2 separate regions of the Homo sapiens genome follow, and region 2 is linked to region 1. The links come from fine-mapping of genetic effects on gene expression. Tissue or cell type: lung. Region 1 holds a variant in brackets; the other region holds the start of a gene. Each region is shown on its reference strand, or each on the opposite one.

Region 1 (2,907 bases):
CACCTGGTACATTCCTTCCCTGGCTCTCAGCATTCCAGGATGCAGTCTCATATCACCAGGGTTTCCTTGATCATTCACTCCCTTTATCCTTCTGCCCATTCACACAGAGCTGCTTTCTGTTCTGTTGTGGTTCTGGCTTCATGGTTTCCCTAAATAGCAGAAAAGTAAAAGTAGAAAGCAGAAGTTAAATAAAAAAGACAGTCCCCTGGGACCAAGTGTAACAAGAGCAGCAACCAAGACTGGAGGGCAGGTTTCTGATCTATGGAGAAATCCTACCAGTTCTGGAGATTTCTCTTTGTGCTGCAAAAAAGCTACTTATTGGCGAGAAGAGACGCTAATGTTGTCCAAGTTTGTTCCTTATCCCTGGTCTATTACAAAGAGAATGAGTTTCCAGGTACAGTCAAGGCATGGACTCCTTGGGATTCGCAGTGATAGGGACACAGAGATGTAATATCTGCCCACCCTACTGTGCAGAACAGTCTACTCCCCAGGATCACCCCATCCTCATACATTGGGACTCCAGGGCACAGGTAGGGCTGCCGTTTTGTATTGGAACTTAATACTATTCACAGAAACCTCATGTTTAATGGTGCATTAAACCAGCAGTACAATCTTAATTTCACAGATTTAATCCTAATATCAGAGTTCAAACATTAACAAATTAAAACATTTTCTCACTGTCATTTTGAATAATGATCTTTCCAGTTCTTCCACTCAACAGTAAAACCCCTGCCCAGTTAGAAAAAGGAAGAATTCCCATAGAAGCTAAGGAATGTGAAAGAATAGCATTACTGTTCCCTGAGAGCTGGCGAGGTCTATTTATTCAAATGTATCAATTTTGGTAGAGATTGAGAGGCATTCCTATAATTGACACCATATATTCTGGAGTTATTTCACTAGGAAGTGTGTGTGAATTGCTGAGGTAGCAGGGAGGGAGAGCCTACAACTGCACAGGGGCCTCTTGAGTCTTTTCCTCCAGCTACACACTCAACATCTGGATTTGCTGCTTTCAGACTGGGAGTTGACCAGGGCCTTAGACAAATTACAAAAAATTGTATTGTTTGCAGTCTTCTTCTGTCCTCTAGAGGGGAGGATGGAGAAATTTAGGAGTGACCAACGGGGAGGTAATTGAATCATGGGGGTCGGTCTTTCCCATGGTGTTCTCGTGATAGTGAATAAGTCTCATGAGATCTGATGGGTTTATCAAGGGTTTCTCCTTTTGCTAATTCCTCATTTTTCTCTTGCCAGCACCATGCAAGAAGTGCCTTTCACCTCCTGCCGTGATTCTGAGGCCTCCCCAGCCATGTGGAACTAACTGTAAGTCCAATTAAACCTTTTGTTCCTAGTTTCAGGTATGTCTTTATTAGCAGCATGAAAACAAAGTAATACATCTTCCCTCTCCTTTCTTTAAGCAGAAGGAAGGGTCTCATTTGGAGTTCTGAACTGTGCTTCCTGGGGTTACGGGAGAAGTGTTGCAAGTACTCCTTTAACCTTTGTTGCTGGTGTCTCAGTAGGTCACA[C/T]GCCCCCTTCCTGTTCGCTGCCTCTGAACCCAGCTCAGCACTAGGAGTTGCTTAGAAATTACAGTCCTTGTGGCCTAGGCTGCCTTTCAAGTTTATTTAGCGTCCCAGAGCCCTTTAGTCCATGGTGGGGAGGTTTGCTGGAACTCAATCTCCCATCACTGGGATAGGACATTTCCCTCTGGCTAGGGCTGGTTCAAATGCTCCCTCTATGGGCAGGCACAGCTGAGTACAGCCCTGTGCTGCTTTCTGCTGTCAGAGGGCAGCCATGAATTTAAGGCAAAGTCTCACACGTACTGTACTCTCCCTCTCCCAAGTGCACAGATTCTCCATGCCATGTGGCTGCTGCTAGGGATGGAGGCAGGGTGGGGATGGCAATTCAAGACTGTCTTTCCTACCCTCTCCAGTGCCTCTTTTAGTGATATAGAGTTAAAATCAGACACTGTGAGTGTTCACAAGATTTTTGGTTCCTATGAAGATGCTCCCTTTGCATAGACAGTTGTCAAACTTGATGTTCCTACCGAGAGGGTGGGACCATCGATGGTGCCCTCCATTCAGCCACCTTGCTCTACCCTCCATAATGTCTTTCAAATGTTATAACCTCTTTCATTTTTTTCAATGCTTTAAAAAAATTATATTCAGGTTGTTGTAAAAGTTTTATGACTTGGCTCCAAACTGTCACCTTGCCCTGGAAATCTCTATAGCCATATCTTGCATCATATCCTGGAGTTATTAACCAGTTATGTGTTCTACAGTAGTCAGGAATCAAGCAGTGGGTCTGGAGGACCAGGACAGAGAGTGAAGTTGGAGGGCAGTGAGTGCTGAGATGCCCCACCCATTCAGGTCCCTCTGTAGTGCCAAACATTACTTCCCCCTACACTCCCAACCCAGCTGAGGTGCATCTAGTTTACCTGAGAAGGGCCACAGGGAGCATGGAGAAGCACTCCAGTTCCCATGGAGACTTGGCAAGGGCTAACCATGCAGCACTAGCTGGAGACAGCTAAGTTTTTAGAGCCTTGGAAGCAAGAGTGTGAATATGACCTTGTTTTGACCCCTCCTGCCAGGTGATTCATGAGCTGTGGGGGGTCCAGACCCACTGATGTCCAGTCAGGCCACAAAATGCAGTAAATGGAAGGAGGCCTTCCCCCATACTTATGACCCAAAGAACTGGTAAAGAATGCAGGAGCTCATCTGTTCTTATGTTTAGAAGTTTCCATGTTCTGATTCCCCTAAGAGGAGACTGCACCAGACATAGGACTCTCATTTGTTTAAAAACAAACAAACAAAACAAAACAAAAAAAAACAGAATACATCACAACACAAAGAAGTTGAAAAAAAGAGGAGCAGTCTGATATCTTGGAAGGAGAATAGAGATGTTTAAAACATTGAC
Region 2 (2,907 bases), not on the chromosome of region 1:
GAGATTCTCCAGGGACCCTCCCTTATCTGCCTCCAGCATCTATCGATACTATAAAGAATAATTCATTTTAAATATAATGAAGACCAACAATTATAAAACTTCCAGAAGGTAACAAATGAGGAAATCTTATAATCTTGAATTTAGCAAAAATGTCTTAAGTAGGACAAAAAAGGTATGAACTATGTAAAAGAAAAAAATGGATAAATTACATCAAAATTGAAAACTTCAGTGCTTCAAAAGACACTTAAAATGAAGAGGCAAGCCACAGACAGGTAGAAAACATTTCAAAACGTATAGCTAATAAAGAACATGGTATGAAACATATAAAGAACTCAATAATATATAAAGAACTCTTAGATAAAAAGTCAAGCTAGCTAATAAATAAATGGTCAAAAGATTTGAATACACACTTCACAAAGAAGAGATCCTCCTGCCTTGGGCTAAAAAAGGGCTGGGGTTACAGGCAGGAGCCCAGGCCCAGCCTTGTCAGTTGATTTTCGGTGACCCTTCAGAGGGCAAAGGGGAAGTTTTCTCCTGTTCCCTACAACCGACAGGCCCATCAATTGGTGAATGGATAAATAAACTGTGGCTTACCCATATGATAGACTACCATTCAACAATAACACAAATGAATTACTAATTAAACACAATAGTATGAATCTCAAAGCATTGTGCTAAGTTAAAAAAGCCAGACATCACTTAGATATGGTTCCGTTTGTATGCATTCTAAAAAAGGCCTAAAGCACATCACTGTTGCCAGGCACCCGGGAATACGGGAATACGTAGCGGAGCGGGCACGAGGGGGGTGGGGGTGGGGGTAGGGGTGGGGGGGAGGGTAGCTGCCTGCATAGCTCTGCCCAGTTTTATGCCGGTTTCAGCCCGGCGCACAACGCATTTTTTTTTTTGATACATAGTCTCGCTCTGTCGCCCAGGCTGGAGTGCAGTGGCGCAATCTCGGCTCACTGCAAACTCCGCCTCCCGGGTTCCCGCCATTCTCCCACCTCAGCCTCCCGAGTAGCTGGGACTACAGGCGCCCGCCACCACGCCCAGCTAATTTTGTTTTTGTATTTTTAGTAGAGACGGGGTTTCACCGTGTTAGCCAGAATGGTCTCGATCTCCTGACGTCGTGATCCGCCCGCCTCGGCCCCCCAAAGTGCTGGGATTACAGGCGTGAATCACCGCGCCCGGCCGCGGCGCACAACGCTTAACAAACTTTGGCTTCCGTTATCCCTCCCTCTGGAAATGCGTGTGTCAGGGTGCCTCCTAGTGGAACTGCAGCGTTTCCTCGAAAGCCATTCCGTCCAGGAGTTAAGGTGGCCGCTGCCCGCCCGGGGACACTTTCTCAGTCCAGCCCATCGGCCTTTACCCCAGCCAACGACCTGTTGCCTTTGGCCGCCTGCCAAGTCACTCTCATTACAGTTTCCTTTTCCTTTTCGATTCCGCCCCCTAAAAACAACAACAAACATTATGTTTCGTTTTCCACTGGAGCTGCAGGCCCCGCCCCCAAACAGCACGTGGGGGGCGTGGCGTCCCGGCAGGGGCTCAGTAGCTGAGGCTGCGGTTCCCCGACGCCACGCAGCTGCGCGCAGCTGGTTCCCGCTCTGCAGCGCAACGCCTGAGGCAGTGGGCGCGCTCAGTCCCGGGACCAGGCGTTCTCTCCTCTCGCCTCTGGGCCTGGGACCCCGCAAAGCGGCGATGGAGCGGAGGTCGCGGAGGAAGTCGCGGCGCAACGGGCGCTCGACCGCGGGCAAGGCCGCCGCGACCCAGCCCGCGAAGTCTCCGGGCGCACAGCTCTGGCTCTTTCCCAGCGCCGCGGGCCTCCACCGCGCGCTGCTCCGGAGGGTGGAGGTGACGCGCCAACTCTGCTGCTCGCCGGGGCGCCTCGCGGTCTTGGAACGCGGCGGGGCGGGCGTCCAGGTTCACCAGCTGCTCGCCGGGAGCGGCGGCGCCCGGACGCCGAGTGAGTGGGGCTGGTGTGTGAGGGCTGTGAGGGCTGTGAGGGGTGAGGGCTGAGGGCTGTGAGGGGCGGGCAGCCGGGGGTCCGCGCCTGAGGGAGGAGAGCCCAGAAGGCCGCAGACGCGCGCCTGGCTCGGATAGTTTCGCCGACGGCGCACCTGAGCTGTCTTTTATCCCGGTCAGTGTCAGGCGCGGGGTGAGCGGGATACTGGCGACCAGCGGATCCTCCGCTCAGCAAAGTGGCCGGTGCGGGGCATGCGGGCACCGTCTTCATCCTTTTAGCCAGTCTGGCTTTCTCATAGGTTTCTGTTCAAGTTTGTACCCCCGTCCCCCGCCCGCCGCATCTCCCACTGTCTCGTTTTGAGAAAGTAGTCACTGCTCCAACTTTGGGAGTCGTTCTCAGTGATGGGATTTTACCTTGGCCTTCAGTTGCACTTCTCCCACATTCTCATCGAAGTGGGGGAAATAGTTGCCCGCGTTCTTTAAAATTTTGCCCATCTGTGGAGTGAAGAAATTGGTATCTTGCTGCGAGTTTATTTTGCGTTTAACTACTGGACGTTTGCGTTCCTTTTTCGGTAAATTGCCTGTTTATCTTTGCCTGGCTTTTAGAAATTTGAGTTGTTAAATCTTTTTCTTATTTGTATGGAAGAGGTATTTGAATATTGAATAAGAATAGCCTTTTGCACGTCGTACATGTAATATTTTTCTCACTTTGCCTTTTGTGCATGTTGTTTTTAGTGCATTTTTTGGGGGGTAGTCTGTCAATTTTTTTGTCTGTTAAGGCTTATGGGTTTTATGTTAGGCTGGAAAGCTATCCACACTCCCAGTGTTTTAAAAAATGTACTCATTTTTGTAGTAATTTTAAGGTTTTTTTTTTTAAGTTAAAATTTTTCGTACGCTTGGAATTTTCAGTACTGAGGTAGGAGGGGAGCTAGATTTATTTGCTTTTCC

Evidence for each region. PIP is the estimated chance that this variant, and not a neighbour inherited with it, causes the effect. A credible set is the group of variants that fine-mapping cannot tell apart.
Region 2: HERC5 starts here. The variant in region 1 is the best candidate, but not a certain one, in a credible set for the expression of HERC5 in lung (TOPMed, PIP 0.68).

The regions. Positions count from the first base shown.
Region 1 is chr9:21,412,184-21,415,090 of GRCh38, forward strand. No RefSeq gene overlaps it. Among named protein-coding and RNA genes, the nearest start is that of IFNA8, 4.5 kb to the left of the region's middle. The variant C/T (reference allele first, on the strand shown) is at 1,521.
Region 2 is chr4:88,455,575-88,458,481 of GRCh38, forward strand. HERC5 (HECT and RLD domain containing E3 ubiquitin protein ligase 5) reads left to right here and starts at 1,545. Exons shown (of 23, transcript NM_016323.4): 1 at 1,545-1,960. The coding sequence starts at 1,696. All of the region lies in intron 1 of LOC102723458 (a long non-coding RNA gene), which reads right to left. RefSeq lists an enhancer at 1,175-1,604.